3 linked regions of the Homo sapiens genome follow. The protein of the gene in region 2 purifies or fractionates together with the protein of the main gene of each other region. This does not show direct contact. Each region holds a gene or a part of one and is shown on either strand. Other genes may lie near its edges.

Region 1 (4,807 bases), on a different chromosome or scaffold from region 2:
GAGCCTGGGAGACAGAGGTTGAGCTGAGACTGCACCACTACACTCCAGCCTGGGCAACAGAGCCAGACCTTGTCTGAAAAAAAAAAAGAAAAAAAAAGAAAAAGAAACTACAACCCTTGCATATTGTCAGCTACCTACCTCACAGGACAGTTACAGGAAATAATGTAAAGTTCCTTTGCGCTCTGTGAATTATACACGTTAGCTCTTGTTATTAGCAGCTATTCTCTCCCTTCACTGGGAAAGGCCTGGAATCTGATCCCTAAGAATTAGGTAGTCACAAAGCCCCATGTCACTACCCGCCCCAACTGCTTCCGCTCTTTCCCAGCTAGAAGACAGTCATCACCGTAGGAGGCAGGGTAATTAAAATCACAAGTGAACACAGGCCTCTATTTCTGTTCTTCTGAAGTCTTCTCTCCTGCATATCGAGGTACTGCGAACACAGAAAGTACCCTGCTTCAACATATCTACTCCCCTTGAAGACGCCACCACTCACAAAGGAGGCAGGACAGGAAAGGGTTCAATGTTCAGTTTCCTTTAATGACCCCCATCTCCCTGAAGGGCAGGTGCAGGCAGCTAGGTGATGGCAAGAGATGTTCACTTGAAGATCTTGCCCTGATTGAAGGCTTTGCCCACATGCTGGAAGGCCCCCTCCCAGGAAAAGTACTCTCGAACCAGCGTCTGGGTCTCCTCGCTGCCAGGATCCAGTTTCCGCCATGTGTATGACTCGTAGTCCACCTGCCAATCTGGACTCAGCTGGGGATAAAAAGCCAGCATGTGGTCAAGTTATGAGACACCACCCCACACCTGTGTTACTTCCAGCTCAAACACATGTCATCAGACCCCAGGTCTCCTGTGAACATGAACTGCTCCTTCCTATAAGCATTCCTGAACCCTCCTAAACATCCATCAACTCAGAAATAAAACACAGTGCTTCTTATATCCCTGCCCCACCCTAAAGAGACTCCTCTCCTCCACCTTCCTCACCGGAAAGGCAAGCTCCTGGCCTCGGAAGACCCAGACTCCAGAAATGGAGCTGCTATTGTTGGTTCCAAAAAGGATGACACTGGCGAAGGCATTCTTCCTCAGCTTGTCCAGTCGCTGGAACATTCCTGAAGCGGCAAGGGAGAACATTCAGCCTTTGGAATCACAGCACTTGCTACACCTTGTTCTCCTTCCTTCTCAGACCCACTCTCTTACCAGTGATGAGATTGCAGCTCATGAAGGTCTGAGTGAGTTCTTCAGGGAAGCGATACTCTGAGTACCACAGGGACCAGCCGTCCTTATCAAAGTGCTCCCAGAAATATGGCAGTGCCACAGAGAGTGTGTCCTCATTGGAGTACTTGCGCTTAAATTCATCCAACACAAAGGTACTAAGAGGAAGAAAGCACAGGGGTCAATCAATAAGGAGGAAGGTTGCCAGGCTAAGAGAAGTGAAGGGTGCTTTCACTTAAAATTTACTAATATAAAGGAAATGGTCATTGTGCTGGCAGATGTGTATGACCTTATGAGGGAAGTAAGCTCAAGGGGTTTGAACAGGGGCCTAGGACACTCCTCTGCATAAGTATGCAAGGCATGTGGAGGGTGGAACTCAAAGTGGGACTCTGAGACCTGCCCCAGGAAGGGCATGGCTAACTGCTGCCCCCAGGTGGAGACAGAGTGAGGACTTCTTTTTCCCTGTTCAGGCCCTCCCCAGGCTGTTTTCCATGAACCACACTAAGTCACTGACTCACCCAAGTCTCTTCCCCCCCACCATACAGGCCTCTTCAGGTTACACAAGCTGTAACAGGAATGTAAGCAGTGAACATTCTCAAAGGGCCTCCACCCCAAATCTTACACCCATGTCCTTTAGTCCATCTCTGCCTATAAACAAGCTTTAGTCTTTTCCAAGGTTTTCCGATGCTGGAAAGCCCTTAGGTTCAGGTTATCTTAAAAGCAATCTGGCATACTGAGCCAAGAATGCCAGCATCAATATAGCAGAGGTCACTCCCTCCACGATTGGTGCTCTGTTTTCTTTCTTTCCAGTTATAAACATATACACTGGCCAGATGCGGTGGCTCACGCCTGTAATCCCAGCACTTTGGGAGGCCAAGGCAGGTGGATCACCTCAGGTCAGGAGTTCAAGCCCAGCCTGACCAACAAGGTGAAACCCCGTTTCTACTAAAAATACAAAAATTAGCTGGGCGTGGTGGCAGGCTGAGACAGGAGAATAGCTTGAACCCGAGAGGCAGAGGTTGCAGTGAGCAGAGATCGCGCCACTGCACTCCAGCCTGGGCGATAGAGGAAGAGTCCTGTCTGGGGGGAAAAAAAAGGACAGGCAGGGTGGCTCACACCTGTAATCCCAACACTTTGGGAGGCCGAGGCGGGCGGATCACGAGGTCAAGAGATCAAGACCATCCTGGCCAACATGGTGAAAACCTATCTCTACTAAAAAAAAAAAAAAAAAAAATTGGTGGCACACGCCTGTAGTCCCAGCTACTCGGGAGGCAGGGACAGGAGACTTGCTCGAACCCAGGAGACAGAGGCTGCAGTGAGCCGAAATTGCACTCCAGCCTGGCAACAGAGCAAGACTCCGTCTCAAAAAAAAAACAAAAAAAAAACAAAAAAAAAAAAAACAACCAAAAAACACATATATGTGTGTGTGCATACATGTGTTAAATGCCTAACCTTGTTTTTACTCTAACTCACTACTTTGAATCTTCCCTGTTTGTCTCTTTAACCACCTAGCCTTGCTTCTCATGTAAATAAGACTCTCTCTCTAGCTGGGAAAGCCGGACAAACTCCAATTGACCCTTTAATTTACAAGACACTAAGGGCTCCTCACCCAACCCCCTTCCACAAGGAGTTGACCTGTGTTAAGCAGATCCTCAGCATTTCAAAGGAGCCCAATTAACTGATAAGGTACTGGCACAAACAATGTATGAAGTTCCCAGGATTTTTCTCAAAGTGATAACAACATAAAGCCTTGAGTTGTGTCCCGCATAGCCCCATATCTAATTATAATGAAGGATTTAGAGCCCTGCACCTGGTACGGTTGCTTTTTGTAACCATTTGTCTTTTAAATTGTTTATCTCTCTGTAACCATTTTGCTTCTTTTGATTCTTGCATGTTTTTACCTCTGTAAAATTATTGCATTTGAGTTCCCCTCCCCTTCCTAAACCAAGGTATAAAAGTTAGTCAAGCCCCTTCCTCAGGGCCGAGAGATTTTTGAGCGTTAGCCGTCTCTTGGTTGCCGGCTAATAAAGGACTCTTAATTCGTCTCAAAGTGTGGCGTTTTCTCTAACTCGCTCAGGTACAACATGTGTGTGTATATATGTGTGTGTGTGCATATACATACACATATATATATATATGCTGACTGAAGAAAATCACCTATAATGCCAACAAGAGGATAATCTTTTTTTTGTTTTGTTTTTTTGAGATGGAGTCTCGCCCTGTCACCCAGGCTGGAATGCAGTGGTGCGATCTCGGCTCACTGCAACCTCTACCTACCGGGTTCAAGCGATTCTCCTGCCTCAGCCTCCCAAGTAGTGGGATTACAGGCACGTGCCACTACGCCCAGCTAATTTTTGTATTTCTAGTAGAGACGAGGTTTCACTATGTTGGTCAGGCTGGTCTTGAACTCTTGACCTCGTGATCCGCCCGCCTCGGCCTCCCAAAGTGCTGGGATTACAGGCATGAGCCACCGTGCCCAGCCCAGGATAATCTTTTATGTATTTTCCTACAGCCTTTGATTTTTCAAAGATGTAGCCATGACATATGCAGTTTTGTGCTTATACTTTGTTGTTACTGGACATCCTATCCATGCTGTTAAGAATTCTTTCAGCCTGGGAAATATAGCGAGACACTGTCTCTACAAAAAAATTTAAAAATTAGCTGGGAGCTGGGCACCATGGCTCACGCCTGTAATCCCAGCTACTCAGAAGGCTGAGGCAAGAGAATTGCTTGAGTCCGGGAGGCAGAGGTTGCAGTGAGCCGAGATCACACCACTGCACTCCAGCCTGGGAGAAGAGCAAGACCCTGTCAAAAAAACAAAACAATCCTTTTTTTTTTATTTTTCCTTGAGACGGAGTCTAGCTCTGTTGCCCAGGCTGCAGTGCAGTGGTGCAATCTCGGCTCACTGCAAGCTCCGCCTCCTGGGTTCACGCCATTCTCCTGCCTCAGCCTCCTGAGTAGCTGGGACTACAGGCGCCTGCTACCGCCCCCGGCTAATTTTTTGTACTTTTTGTATTTTTAGTAGAGACGGTATTTTTACCGTGTTAGCCAGGATGGTTTCAATCTCCTGACCTCGTGATCCACCCGCCTCAGCCTCCCAAAGTGCTGGGATCACAGGCGTGAGCCACCGCGCCCAGCCTAAAACAAAACAATTTTTTGCACTAGCAGTCCCAGCTACTCAAGAGGCTGAGGTAGAAGGACCACCTGAGATCAGGAGTTGGACACCGGACTAAGCAACATAGCAAGACCCTACCTCAAAAACAGAATTCTTTGCAAACATTTTAATGGCCAAACAATCTTCTAATGCAGGATTGTGCCATAAATCTACTAAACATTGAATATTAAACTGAATGTTTAGTTGGTTCTATTGTTCATAGCATAAATATTGCCATGAGTATTCCAATTTCACTCAATCCTTATAACCCATGAGTTATCAACTGTTACCCTGACCCTCCCCTCTCTTTACAGATGAGACCAAGTAGAATGACCTGTCCAAGATTACACTGTAGCAAAGCAGAGGATCTGTCCTTTAACCCTAGGTCCCAGGTTCCTTTCCAAATGCATAAGAGACCTCATCTGAGGAGCCTTAAAACCT
Region 2 (7,079 bases):
GCAATACCTGCATGGTCACAGCCAGGGTTCCACAGGGTGGTCTCCCCACGCATGCGGTGCCTGTTAGGGGGCATGGAGGACCAGAGGGTGAGCCAGGCCAGTGGGGCCTGGCACCAAAGAAAGCAGAGGCTTCAGGCAAGGAGTCAGTGGACTAAATAAAGAAGCAGGGAGGCCGGACGCGGTGGCTCACGCCTGTAATCCCAGAACTTTGGGAGGCTGAGGTGGGTGGATCACCTCAGGTGGGGGAGTTCGAGATGAGCCTGGCCAACATGGTAAAACCCCGTCTCTACTAAAAATACAAAATTAGCTGGGCATGGTGGCATGCGCCTGTAATCCCAGCACTTTGGGAAGCCGAGGTGGGTGGATCACCTGAGGTGGGGACTTCAAGATAAGCCTGGCCAATATGGTAAAACCCTGTCTGTATTAAAAATACAAAATTAGCTGGGCGTGGTGGCATGTGCCTGTAATCCCAGCTACTTGGAAGGCTGAGGCAGGAGAATTGCTTGAACCCGGGAAGCAGAGGTTGCAGCAAGCTGGGATCATGCCATTGCACTCCAGCCTGGGTGACAGAGTGAGACTCCGTCTCCAAAAAACAAACAAAAAAAAAAAGAAAGAAGCAGGGGTGGAGCTGGAACCCTTGTGATTCTAAAGCTAGTCAAGGAGAAAAGATTTGAAGGAAGAGCCAAGGCAATATGGAAAAAGAACAAAGACAGGCATGCGTGGTGGCTCACACCTGTAACCCCAGGACTTTGGGAGGCCAAGGCGAGTGGATCACTTGAGGACAGGAGTTCGAGACCAGCCTGACCAACATGGCAAGACCCTGTCTCTACCAAAAATATAAAAATTAGCCAGGATGGTGGTGCATACCTGTAATCCCAGCTACTTGGGAGGCTGAAGCACGAGAATCGCTTGAAGCTGGGAGGGGGAGGTTGCAGTGAGTTGAAATTGTGCCACTGCACTCCAGCCCGGATGACAGAGTGAGACTCTGTCTCAAAAAAAAAAAAAAAAAAAAAAAAAAAGAACGAAGAGGAGGCTCCTGCCAAACAGGATAGCAAAAGTTCTAATTGTTAAAATAAGTTACTAAACAGGAACAAAATAGTACCTGGAAACAGATACAAGCAAATTTAGTGTTTGTGAAAGTTGGCACTTCCTATCAGTAAAATAAGGATAAACTATTCAAAATGTTTGAAACAACTAGCTAATTATTTGGAAAAAATCTCCCCCTTACCAATAGTCACAAAAAGAAACTTTAGATAGATTAAAGAATTCAAGCCAGGCACAGTGGCTCAAGCCTATAACCCCAACACTTTGGGAGGCCAAGGTGAGAGGACTGCTTGAGCCCAGGAGTTGCAGACTAGCCTGGGCAACATAGTGAGACCTAGTCTCTGCAAAAAAAAAAAAAAAAAAGCCAGGCATGGTGGCGTGCACCTTTGTTCCCAGCTACTTGGGTGGCTGAGGTTGAGGCTGCACCAAGCTATGATTGTGCTGTGATCATGCCGATGCACTCCAATCTGGCCAACACAGTGAGAGAGACTCTGTCTCAAAAATAAATAAATAAACAAATAAATAAAAATAAAAAGTTGATATAACTCTATTCCATTAAAGTAATGGGAGTGTCTCACATTTTATTTAAACCACGTTCACTGGAAAAAAAATGTGGCTACCTTAAGAGTTTTATAAGAAGTATGTGGCCAGGCACAGTGGCTCACACCTGTAATCCCAGCACTTTGGGAGGCCGAGGCAGGCGGCTTACTTCAGGTTAGGAGTTCAAGACCAGCTTGGCCAACATGGCAAAACTCTGTCTACTAAAAATGCAAAAGAATTAGCTGGGCGTGGTGGTGCGTGCCTGTAGTCCCAGCTACTCAGGAGACTGAGACACAAGAATCGCTTGAACCCAAGTGGTTGAGGTTGCAGTGAGACGAGATCGCGTCACTGCACTCCAGCCTGGGCGACAGAGCGAGACTCTGTCTCAATTAAAAAAAAAAAAGTAGTCATTCTGTTTTCATGTAAACAAACTTGGAGGCCAGGTATGGTGGTTCATGCCTGTAGTCCCAGCACTTTGGGAGACTGAGGCAGGAGGATTGCTTGAGCCCAGAAGTTCAAGACCAGCCTGGGCAACATAGCGAGACCCTCTCTTGATTTTATTAAAAAATTGAAAAACAGGGCCGGGCGTGGTGGCTCACGCCTATAATCCCAGCACTTTGGGACGCCGAGGTACGCGAATCACGAGGTCAGGAGATCGAGACCATCTTGGCTAACACGGTGAAACCCCGTCTCTACTAAAAATACAAAAAAAATTAGCCAGGCGTGGTGGTGGGCTCCTATAGTCCCAGCTACTCAGGAGGCTGAGGCAGGAGAATGGTGTGAACCTGGGAGGAGGAGCTTGCAGTGAGCAGAGACTGCGCCACTGCACTCCAGCCTGGGTGACAGAGCAAGACCCCATTTCCAAAGAAAAAAAAAAAATTGAAAAATTGAAAAAACAAAAACGCAAACACAAACGCAAACAACTTGGCCATTGTATGTTATGTGTATTTAACAGAACTGTTGGCTGGACGAAGTGGCTCATGCCTGTCATCCTAGCACTTTGGGAGACCGAAGCGGGAGGATCACAAGGTCAGGAGCTCGAAACAAGCCTGACCAACATGGTGAAACCCCGTCTCTACTAAAAATACAAAAATTAGCCAGGTGTGGTGGCATGCGCCTGTAATCCCAGCTACTCAGAAGGCTGAGGCAGGAGAATCGCTTGAGCTCAGGAGGCAGAGGTTGCAGTAAGCGCGCATCACTGCACTCCAGCCTGGGAAACCGAGAGAGACTCTGTCTCAAAAAAACAAAAAAAACAAAAAAAAAAACAGGCCAGGCGCGGTGGGTCACGCCTGTAATCCCAGCACTTTGGGAGGCCGAGGTGAGCAGATCATGAGGTCAAGAGATCGAGACCATCCTGGCCGACAGGGTGAAACCCTGTCTCTACTAAAAAAAATACAAAAAATTAGCCAGGCGTGGTGGCGGGCGCCTGTAGTCCCAGCTACTCAGGAGGCTGAGGCAGGAGTATGCTGTGAACCTGGGAAGCAGAGCTTGCAGTGAGCCAAGATTGCGCCACCGCACTCCAGCCTGGGCGACAGAGAGAGACTCTGTCTCAAAATAATAATAATAATAATAAAAATAAAAAAATAAAACATATAACTGTTTTCCTAGCTCTCAGTTACTTGCAAAATGCACAATCAAACATTATATTCCCAGTGCTCAGAGCAGAGGTGGCACATAGTTGGGCCCAGTAAATATTTTTTGACCACATTAATTTAGTACATAAGACACCAGAAAAAATTCTCAAAATTTAAATATAATAAACCCTGGTTTCCAAAAATGGTAAAGTTATTTTAAAATACTTTTTAAAAAGATTTGTCACCTAGAATATTACTTTGTATTTATCACTAATTAAAATATTAACAGTGAAAACAAATAGTAACAGAAAACAGGAGAAACATTTACAATTAACAGGAAAACTACCACACAATAATACAACAAAAACATTTACAATATTTAACAAAAAAATTGATACCCAGAACAGGTAAAGAATTCTCAAAAAAAAAATTAAAAAGAAAAAGAACGAAGAATCAATAGAAAAACGGGGAAAAGATAGATACAGACAATTCACATATGGGTAAACCTGACTGGCCAAAAAACATGAAAATAGGCACAACTTCAATAGCAATCAGAAAGGTACAAAGTAAAACAACAGAGGTATTTTTTTGCCCATCAGATTGGCAAAACTAATTAGGCAACCCTAATGCTCAGGCTTAGCAAGGGTGGGGAAATGAACACTCTCACAGCAATTCCTGGAGGTATCAATCAGCAAAGCCATTCTGCAGGGCAACTTGGCAGCTTCCGTTTGTACTTAATATAGGTGTGCCCCTGCCGACCTAGCAGTTTCACTTCTTGATAGCTACACCAGCGAAACCCTTCCACACATGCTTCAGCAAGCATATAGAGCAGGGGTATCCAATCTTTTGGCTTCCCTGGGCCACATGGAAGAATTGTCTTGGGCCACAGATAAAATACACTAACACTGGCTGGGAGCAGTGGCTCACGCCTGTAATCCCAGCACTTTGGGAGTCCGAGGCGGGCGGATCACGAGGTCAGGAGATCGAGACCATCCTGGCTAACATGGTGAAACCCCGTCTCTACTAAAAATACAAAAAAAAAATTAGCCGGGCGTGGTGGTGGGCACCTGTAGTCCTAGCTACTTGGGAGGCTGAGGCAGGAGAATGGCGTTAACGTGGGAGGCGGAGTTTGGAGCTTGCAGTGAGCCGAGACTGTGCCACTGCACTCCAGCCTGGGTGACAGTGCAAGACCCGTCTCAAAAAATAAATAAATAAATAAATAATAAAAATAAATTTAAAAAAATACACTAACACTAACGATAGCTGATGAGCTAAAAAAAAAAAATCGCAAAAAAATTCTTAAATGTTTAAACAAAGTTTACAAATTTGTGTTAGGCTGCATTCAAAGCCGTCCTGGGCCGCATGTGGCCCACAGGCTGCAGGTTGGACAAACTTGATATACAGGGATGTGCATTAGAGTAAGGTTTTCAACAGAAAAAAAACAAAAAACAAAAAACAGAATGAATCATTAATTAAAAAGTGACTCCAGGCCGGGAGCAGTGGCTCACGCCTGTAATCCCAGCACTTTGGGAGGCCGAGGCAGGCAGATCACCTGAGGTCAGGAGTTTGAGACCAGCCTGGCCAACATGGTGAAACCCCATCTCTACTAAAAATACAAAAATTAGCCAGGCGCGGTGGCAGGTGCCTGTAATGCCAGCTACTTGGGAGGCTGAGGCAAGAGAATCGCTTGAACCTAGGAGGTGGAGGTTGCGGTGAGCCGAGATCATGCCACTGTACTCCAGCCTGAGCAAAAAGAGTGAAACTCTGTCTCAAAAAAAAAAAAAAAAAAAAAAAAAAAAAGAATGACTTCACTATGGTACAGCCACACTATGAGATATTATGGAACAATTAAAAAGAAGGAAGTCAGTATGTGTGGTATGTGTGTAAGGACAAGGAAAGATCTCCAAGAGAAAGTATTAAGTGTAAGAAGAAAGCTAGATCATAACAAGTGTAATATGAACCCTTTATGTTAAAAAATAGAAAAGACTCACCCAAAAGGAGAACTATAAATTTCTATGGGTACGTGTATATGTAAGTAAATAGGAAAGATCTGGGAAGATACACATCAAAGTGATAACAATGGCTAAATCTTAGGAGGAAGTAGGTGTGGAGGGGGATGGTCAAGGAGATTTGAAACTTTAAATTTCTTACAAGAATATATTCATATATTTTGGTCAGTTGTGGTGGCGCATTCCTGTAATCCCAGCTACTTGGGAGGCTGAGGCAGGAGAATCACTTGAACCCAGGAGGCAGCGGTTGCCATGAGCCGAGATGGCGTCACTGCACTCCGGCCTGGGCAACAGAACAAGACTCTGTCCCCCCAAAAAAAAATATATATATTCATATGTTCCTAATTAAATTCAAAATAATGTTATTGTTACTAGAAAAAGAAGGGAGAGACTGGGTGTGGTGCCTCACACCTATAATCCCAGCACTCTGGGAGTCTGAGACAGGAGAATCACTTGAGCCAGGAGTTGGAGACCAGACTGAGCAACAAAGTGAAAACTCATCTTTACAAAAAATTAAATTAAATTAAATTAAAATTAAATAAAGAAAGAAGGGATAGAAGAGAGTCTGCAAGTGGCGGTGTTGCATGGGAGTACTGGACTAGGAGAGGAAGCTAAATGATCAGATTGGAATGACAGAGAGAAGTGTAGCACCACTGGGGGCAGAAGTGAGCACCAACCCAGAAGGAGAGAGGCTCGGGGGGCTGTCAGGGAAAAGGAGAGAGCCAGACTAGGCAGAGGGAACCAGAGGAAGGTGCAGATAGAAGCTCACCATCGAGTCAGGGAGTCCTGGATGGCGTTGGTGAGTGCATGGCCCAGGTGCAGGGAGCCTGTCACATTGGGGGGTGGGATGCACATCATGAAGACACCTCGGGGATTTGCTGCTGACACATTAGGACGCTGATGGTGGAGAAGGATGGCACATGTTTAAGGCCTCAGGTCACCTCTCCCAGCCCCTCCCAGGCAACACATCCTTCAGTCCTGCCCTTCCCCACCCCACCCACTCTGGGCCTGGGCAGCAGTGCCTACTCACCCCATACTCTGGCTTGAAGAAGCCCTGCTGCTCCCACCAAGGGTACCAGGCAGCCTCCACATACCGAGGGCTGTAGGAGTCGGGCATGGGGCCACTGACATCTGGGGGAGAGGAAGGGAGGGCTCAGTGCCGTGGCTGGGAGCACTCTGGGAAGGAGACGTGCTGGCAGAGAGGGATCGGGATCTCCGTCACTCACATCATAGGACAGGCATTTGAGGGGCCTAGAGGCAGGGCAGGGGGTCTGCAATTCCTCACCAAACAAAGTGGTGAGAGCAAGAATAGAGCAAGATAGGGTGAAAACTTAGAAGGGGCTGCTGAGGGGTGAGCCCCTTCCCACTCCTAGTACCTTTCTTTTCCCCGGGTGGGGTTGGGAGGTCATAGGTAATGACCCCAGGATCCCGTTTCTCCCTCTTCTCTGGTTTTGGTTTCTTCTGCTTGGGAGGGAGAAGACATAGGCCCAGGCATCAGCCAACCCATCACCGCACACATCAACTTTCCTTCCAGCTCCACCCTCGCCTCACCTCCCCTGGAGGTGGCTGCTGCTGTTGGATCTTCTGCTTCTGTTGGAATTTCTCTAGCTTCTCCCGTTTCTTTGCCTCTTTCTTGAGCTGAGCAGCTGTCTTTGGGAGGGCAGGAGCCTCGGGGCCTAGAGAGAGGTGCAGAAATTCAGACTCAGCCAGCTGGGGACCCTCTTGGACGGCCATACTAGGTTTCAGATGGGGTATTTTAGATGCCCGAGGTCTTGCCCATGCTGACCTCCCCCCTCTCCCTCCTCTCCCGCAGGACCCTGCCCCAGTGATTCTGCCATTTCTAGGAAAAAAAGAAAGTGAGTTGCATGGAAGGCCCCAGGGAAGCCCCTATCCTCCAACTCCTCGCCCTTCC
Region 3 (7,089 bases), on a different chromosome or scaffold from region 2:
CAGACTCCTACCCAGAACACTCCAGGTCAGGAGGGCAGGGCCCTGAGGAAGGTGAGGACATCCTGGAGAGCTGTGGCCACCAAGGTGCTGCACGGCCTGGAGGTCTCCACACATCTGGGCAAACGGAAGCTTTCTGGGAGGAGCTGGCTCCCAGGCCCTGCCCTCCACGCCACCCCATCACAGTCGCACACACAGACAGGCTCCCAGATTGTCCACCCTCCACAGGGAGAAGTCAGGGAGGTGGGCAGGGGACGGGGTCAGCCACCGGCTCAGCCTGTGCACGCCCACCCCTCCCAGCAGCACCCCTCTCCGGCCCACCTGGCTGGCCTGAGTCTGTGGACTGGCACTGCCTGATAGAACTTTCAGTACCTTCAGTGCCCAAAGGGCGCGACGACTAGCCCTTAAAAGAGGCTGGAGCCCCTGAGGAAGCGGGTCTTTAGGCAAAACCACCGCACGGCAGAGCAGCCACAGGACAGATCAATGTCTTCCTGCGTGGAGTGAGGCCTTCGGTCTTTTTTTGAGACGGAGTCTCACTCTGTCACCCAGGCTGGAGTGCAGTGGCGCGATCTTGGCTCACTGCAACCTCCAACTCCCCGGTTCAAGCGATTCTCCTGCCTCAGCCTCCCAAGTAGCTGGGACTACAGGCATGCGCAACCACGGCCAGCTAATTTTTGGGTTTTTTTTGAGACGGAGCCTCACTCTGTCACCAGGCTGGAGTGCAGTGGTACGATCTCAGCTCACTGCAACTTCCACCTCCCGGGTCCAAGCAATTCTCCTACCTCAGCCTCCCAAGTAGCTGGGATTACAGGCGTGTGCCACCACACCTGGCTATTTTTTCATATTTTTAGTAGAGATGGGGTTTCACCATGTTTGCCAGGCTGGTCTCGAACTCCTGACCTCAGGTGATCTGCCTGCCTTGGCCTCCCACAGTGCTGGGATTACAGACATGAGCCATGCGCCCAGCCTAATTTTCGTATTTTTAGTAGAGACGGGGTTTCACCATGTTGGCCAGGATGGTCTCGATATCCTGACCTCATGATCTGCCTGCCTCGGCCTCCCAAAGTGCTGGGATCACCAGCATGAGCCACCACGCCCAGCCGCCTTTGGTCTTTTTAAGAGAAAAAACTCCACAGTTCCACATTCCCACTCAGCCACTTTCCTGTCTGACCCCTGGATATTCCAGCCCCACTGGGAAACGCCAGCCTGTCCTGCATATCTCAGAGCACTCACTGTAGCTACCCAACCCACCCTGCCCCAGGCCAAGCCCCGCCCCAACCACGTCTTTTCTTAAATGCCACTGCAGGCCAGCTCCATGGCCAGCCCTGCTTGAGGGGCTCTGGCCGACCTGCCTGCCCGGCGCAGCCCCTGTGCCTCCTGGGTGACTCCAGCACGGCACAGGCTTTCTGGAACCCCAGACAATACCCACGCCACACCTCACACGGCACCCTTGGCTGTCAGCGAGGTGGGAGAGCTGGAGACCTGTGGCAGGCTCCTACACCAGCACTTAGCATAACTCACTGCCACCAGCTTCCAACACGCTGATGTCACCTTAACACACTGGCACAGGATGATGACCCACAAATCCTCAATGCCACATTTCCTGTCCTCAGCCCCCAGAAGGCTGACGCCAGTGCACGGCACAGCCCAGGTACTCTTTGTCCATCATCAAGCACGTGTGCCCACCTGTGCTAAACCTTGCAGCCTCACCCAGCAACCCGGGAGCAAAGCCCAGAGGGCCTAGTCCTCCAGAGGAGGCGGGAGGCAGCGGGGGCTCTGTCGGCTGGGCGCTCACTCTGCCAGCACTGACTGCGTGTGAACCCTGCAGCAGCCCAGGGGAGATGCTGCTGTCTCACAGGATTGGCACTGCGCCCAGAAAGCCTCTACAGAGGCAGGTCTAGGAGCCTGGCTGGGCCTGAGGCATGTGGTGAGAAGGCGAAGGTGAGCGTCTACTTCCTCAGAGGACGCTCGGGGGCTCCTTCCACACCTGCCCAGCCCCTCAGCTGCATCCCCCACCCCCAGAACGGGGCTGGGCACACACGGGCTCCGGAAGTAACCAACTGCCTGCGAGCCAGCTGCTTAAGGCTCATGGGGTCCAGATGACGGGGTGGGCGGAGCTGTAGAAGGAGGCTGCTCAGGTGAGATGGCCTGGCCTGCCTCCCTGGGAGGTGAGCCGCAGGCAGTGTCAACTTAAGAAGCACCCCGCCCTGTCGGGCAGGGACAACCCCAAGTTTAGCTACACAGTTCTTCTGCTGCCAGGCGGTCCTTCATTCTGGAAACCAATCCTGACGTCTCATCAGGTCCCCAACCCACTCCGCCCCCTTTGCCTTCTTCCTTCCACTTAAAGCCTCTGAAAGTACTACTTCTTAGCAACAGCATCCCCGCCCCCTTCAGAGACTGCCCGACCACCCTATCCAAATCAAGAGACAGAAATTTTGACCCAGTCACAGTACAGGCTTATTCCTTTCCGTGCTCACTAGCGTCTAAGTTCCAAAAGTGTTGCGTCCGTGCCTATCCCCTCCGTGCTCAGCTGATGCGTGCAGTAACTGGTGCTTGACAAAGACGTGGTGTACGAAGGTCTGCAGGCCAGAGAAACAGCTGGGGCAGATGTCTGGTCTCCCACGGAGACGGCAGCAAACACAGGCCTTAGGCCCCAGCAGCCTGGCCGAGGGGCTTCCACGACCGGGATGCGCCGTGAGACAGTGCTCCCGGCGCCCCCGTCCCGCGGACGCCCTCCAAGCCGGCCACGTGGCCTCCGTCGCCCCGCCTCTCTGCGCTCGCCCCAAGTGCCGCACTTGGCCCACGGCCCCTAAGCCCGCGCTGGCGCACTTGTGCCTCAGTCCCTAACGGCGCGAGCTTCTGGCGCAGCCCGGGCCGCCCGCCCTCCCGGCCCCTCGGGCGTCTCTGTCGCGCCCGACTCCTTCCGGCGGGGGCCGCGGTACTCACACGCCAGCCAAGGACGCGGCGACCAAGGAGGAGGAATCGGCGGACGCGGGAAGACTGATGAAAGGGAGGGCCGCCCGGGCCGCGCACGGGAAATGAAGCACTGGGCTCTACCAAGAGCCACGGGCCGGGGGCCCGGGGGGGGGACGCGACCCTTGCACACGCCCCGCCTGGCCGCCAGGACCCTCGACGCGCCGTGCCCCGACACTTCAAAGGCAGAATTCCGTTGGAGATGACCGCGGAGGCCGCTCTTCCCCGGAGGAGTCTGCACAAGTGCTGGGAACGGGCGGCAGCGCGCGCGCCCCCCCTGCGCTTCGCGGCCAGTGGTGTCGCCGGTGGGGGCGGGTCCGGCAGCCGGCAAGCGCCGAGTGACGCACGAGGCGGCCAGCGCGCAGGCGCGGGGCGGGGCCGGGCCGGGCTAGGTCAGCGCGCGTGCGCCCGCCAAGCTGCGGGACAAAGGGGAGGGACCCGTGCGGCCCCGCCCCCGAGTGCCCCGCCCCGAGCGGCTGGGCGTGTGGCTCCCGCGACCCGCGCGGCCCGGGTCCCCCCCGCCGCAGCCATGTACCCCGCGGGCCCCCCGGCCGGCCCGGTACCGCGCCGCGGCCGCCGTCCCCTGCCCGGGCCCCCCGCGCCCGCCCCAGCCCCCGTCCCCGCTGCACGGCCGCCGCCCCCCGCGCCCGGGCCGCGGCCCCGCGTGGCCGTGAAGATGGCCTTCCGCAAGGCCTACTCCATCAAGGACAAGCTGCAGGCCATCGAGCGCGTCAAGGGCGGCGAGCGGCAGGCCAGTGTGTGCCGCGACTTCGGCGTGCCGGGCGGGACGCTGCGCGGCTGGCTCAAGGACGAGCCCAAGCTGCGCTGGTTCCTGGAGCAGCTGGGCGGTGAGGTGGGCACTCAGCGCAAGAAGATGCGGCTGGCCAACGAGGAGGAGATCGACCGCGCCGTGTACGCCTGGTTCCTGGCGCTGCGCCAGCACGGGGTGCCGCTGTCTGGCCCGCTCATCCAGGCGCAGGCCGAGGCCTTCGCGCGCCAGATCTACGGGCCCGAGTGCACCTTCAAGGCCAGCCACGGCTGGTTCTGGCGCTGGCAGAAGCGCCACGGCATCTCCAGCCAGCGCTTCTACGGCGAGGCCGGGCCCCCAGCCCCGAGCCCCGCGCCCGGCCCGCCCGTCAAGGAGGAGCCCGCGCTGCCCTCCGGCGCCGGCCCCCTGCCCGACCGCGCCCCGGCCCCGCCGCCCCCGGCCGAGGGCGGCTACGGGGACGAGCAGATTTACAGCGCCAGCGTCACCGGCCTCTACTGGAAGCTGCTTCCGGAGCAGGCTGCGCCCCCGGGCGCAGGGGACCCCGGGGCGGGGGGCTGTGGCCGGCGCTGGCGGGGCGACCGCGTAACGGTGCTGCTGGCCGCAAACCTGACCGGCAGCCACAAGCTGAAGCCGCTGGTCATCGGGCGGCTGCCGGACCCGCCCAGCCTGCGCCACCACAACCAGGACAAGTTCCCGGCCTCCTACCGCTACAGCCCCGACGCCTGGCTCAGCCGCCCGCTGCTGCGGGGCTGGTTCTTTGAGGAATTTGTCCCAGGCGTCAAACGCTACCTGCGCCGAAGCTGCCTGCAGCAGAAGGCCGTGCTGCTGGTGGCCCACCCGCCCTGCCCAAGCCCAGCTGCCAGTATGCCCGCCCTGGACAGCGAGGATGCCCCCGTGCGGTGCAGGCCGGAGCCCCTCGGTCCCCCGGAGGAGCTGCAGACACCGGATGGCGCTGTGCGGGTGCTGTTCCTGTCCAAAGGCAGCAGCCGGGCACATATCCCCGCACCGCTGGAGCAGGGCGTGGTGGCCGCCTTCAAACAGCTGTACAAGCGCGAGCTGCTGCGACTGGCTGTGTCCTGCGCCAGCGGCTCCCCGCTGGACTTCATGCGCAGCTTCATGCTCAAGGACATGCTCTACCTGGCTGGCCTCTCCTGGGACCTGGTGCAGGCGGGCAGCATTGAGCGCTGCTGGCTGCTGGGCCTGCGGGCTGCCTTCGAGCCCCGGCCCGGCGAGGACAGTGCTGGGCAGCCGGCCCAGGCCGAGGAAGCCGCCGAGCACAGCAGGGTGCTCAGCGACCTCACCCACCTGGCGGCTCTGGCCTACAAGTGCCTGGCTCCGGAGGAGGTTGCGGAGTGGCTGCACCTGGACGATGATGGGGGTCCGCCCGAGGGCTGCAGGGAGGAGGTGGGCCCAGCCCTGCCCCCTGCAGCGCCTCCGGCCCCAGCCAGTCTGCCCTCTGCCATGGGGGGCGGAGAGGACGAGGAGGAGGCCACCGACTATGGAGGGACCTCAGTGCCGACTGCCGGGGAGGCCGTGCGGGGGCTAGAAACAGCTCTGCGGTGGCTGGAGAACCAGGACCCCAGAGAGGTGGGGCCACTGAGGCTGGTGCAGTTGCGCTCACTCATCAGCATGGCCCGGAGGCTGGGGGGCATCGGGCATACCCCAGCAGGCCCCTATGACGGTGTGTGACCAGGCCAGCCCAGTGACCTTTCTCCTGCTGCACTTGGAGGGAGGGGACATACACACAGTCTCCCATCTCTCCTCCCCTCCCCCTGGGGTGGCCCACCGCATGGGTACAGGGGGTTCCAGGAATCCAAATCCAGCATGGCTTGGAGGAGCTCTGTTGGTGAGAGGTCGCCCTGCCTCACTGGCACCCTGGGGGCACAGCTGGAAGAGAGGCCTGGCCCATGCTCCTCTCAGGGCAGGCACATGTACGGGGCATACAAGGCACAGCGCCTGTTGGAACAGGTGGCTGTGTTCCTGCTCTGGCCCCCGTGGGGCTGGGCCTCCGCCCCTGCACCAGTCACATGCACTGGACGAGGGCCGAAACTCCTGTCTGCTATCGAGCCCTGGTGCTATGTGGCCCCGGAGCCACAGCACAATCATCTCAGTGGCGAAGCACACCACTTGATTCTATTTTTTTTTAACACATTAAATCTGTTTTTAAAGATACTCTTCAGAGGGGCCGTGAGAACAGGGGCCGGGTGGGCTGGTCTCGGGCCGCCCTGCGGTTTCTCTGGAGGTCAGAGGCCCCAGGTACTGGAGCATCACTGTGGAGTGGGAGGGGTGGAGCCCTGTATTAGGTTCTGGGTGCAGCAGGGAGGTGTAGAGTTCCGTTTCCTTGGATTTTTAGTTTTCCCTAAGAAAACTGAACAGATCTCTTATTCCGTGGGATTGGCAGCTGCCTGGCTTTGGGCCCTGGTGACTTGGCCAACGGCAGGAGAGTTTCCCCTGCTTCCTCATCAGCCACAGACCATTCTGTCCAGTCCCAGGGCCTGGAGCCACCTGACTTACCTGGAAGCAGGCCCTGGCATTAGCCCCCAGGGCAATACGCAGTGCCACCCTCTGTGGGCTCTCCTCCCCACCCTCAGACTTTTCTGCCTCTCCTGGGACTGCCAAGGATGTGGCTGACAAGCTGCTCCTGGGAGGCCTACTTTGAAAGGAGGAAAGGGCCCCAGGGCCTGTCAAACCCTGGTTCTGTTCTGCTCTGGCCAGGTCTAGACCTACAGTCCTTCTGGTTGGACTGGGGCCAGGGATGCCCATGCCTCCTCAGGTAGGGTGGGAACTGCCTTTGCAGAGATGCTGCCCGAGCTGGTGTGAGGGGCAGGGAGCTGGCCTGCTTGCCTCCAGGTGTTGACCCCTCGTCCCCATCTGCCCCCAGTGTCCTCCTAGGAGAGGGAACCTTGAAAACCCAGAGTTGTGGAGTGCAGGGGTAGGCTGGAGGCCTGCACGGGGAAGGGAAGGGCTGTGCACCAGCTTGGCAGTGGGGCAGCTGGAGGGTGTCCCCCAAAAGTGACCTTTATACAGGTCCAGGAACAAACAGTTCCTTGGAACTGCCCGCAAGTGAAGAAATATATACATATATATGTATATATCTATATCTCAAAATCTGAGAGCTCAGGGAGGCCGTGGAAATTTGGGGAAGAAGAAACAGACTCCCTGAGCAGAGCTCAGGGCAGCAGCTCCAGGCATGCCTGCTGAGCCCATCAGGCCACCGCCACCTGCAGGAAGAGCCTCTGGCCTGAACTGCTGGGGATGGGCTGCAGAAAGCCTGAGACATTTGGGCCAGCACCTTCCCAGGGGCACAGGCCCCCAAGGCGGGGACACCACCTCTGCTCTGCCAGGCCTGC

Evidence for each region.
Region 1: the proteins of VARS1 (region 2) and EEF1G purify together in Homo sapiens (affinity purification with mass spectrometry; 8 studies listed by BioGRID and IntAct, with this or other methods). This does not show direct contact.
Region 3: the proteins of VARS1 (region 2) and EEF1D purify together in Homo sapiens (affinity purification with mass spectrometry; 6 studies listed by BioGRID and IntAct, with this or other methods). This does not show direct contact.

Annotation. Positions count from the first base shown.
Region 1 is NC_000011.10:62,559,085-62,563,891, forward strand, and holds the end of EEF1G (elongation factor 1-gamma), read right to left. Parts: intron 1,371-4,807; coding exon 1,198-1,370; intron 1,110-1,197; coding exon 985-1,109; intron 754-984; coding exon 595-753; 3' UTR 512-594; downstream 1-511. UniProt on the Homo sapiens protein: Probably plays a role in anchoring the complex to other cellular components.
Region 2 is NC_000006.12:31,785,674-31,792,752, forward strand, and holds part of VARS1 (valine--tRNA ligase), read right to left. Parts: intron 6,844-7,079; coding exon 6,719-6,843; intron 6,632-6,718; coding exon of another isoform or gene 6,629-6,631; coding exon 6,544-6,628; intron 6,299-6,543; coding exon 6,198-6,298; intron 6,065-6,197; coding exon 5,937-6,064; intron 61-5,936; coding exon 1-60. UniProt on the Homo sapiens protein: Catalyzes the attachment of valine to tRNA(Val).
Region 3 is NC_000008.11:143,594,405-143,601,493, forward strand, and holds the start of EEF1D (elongation factor 1-delta), read right to left. Parts: upstream 3,012-7,089; 5' UTR 2,944-3,011; exon of another isoform or gene 1-2,943. Other genes in the region: TIGD5 (tigger transposable element-derived protein 5), read left to right, coding at 3,500-5,428.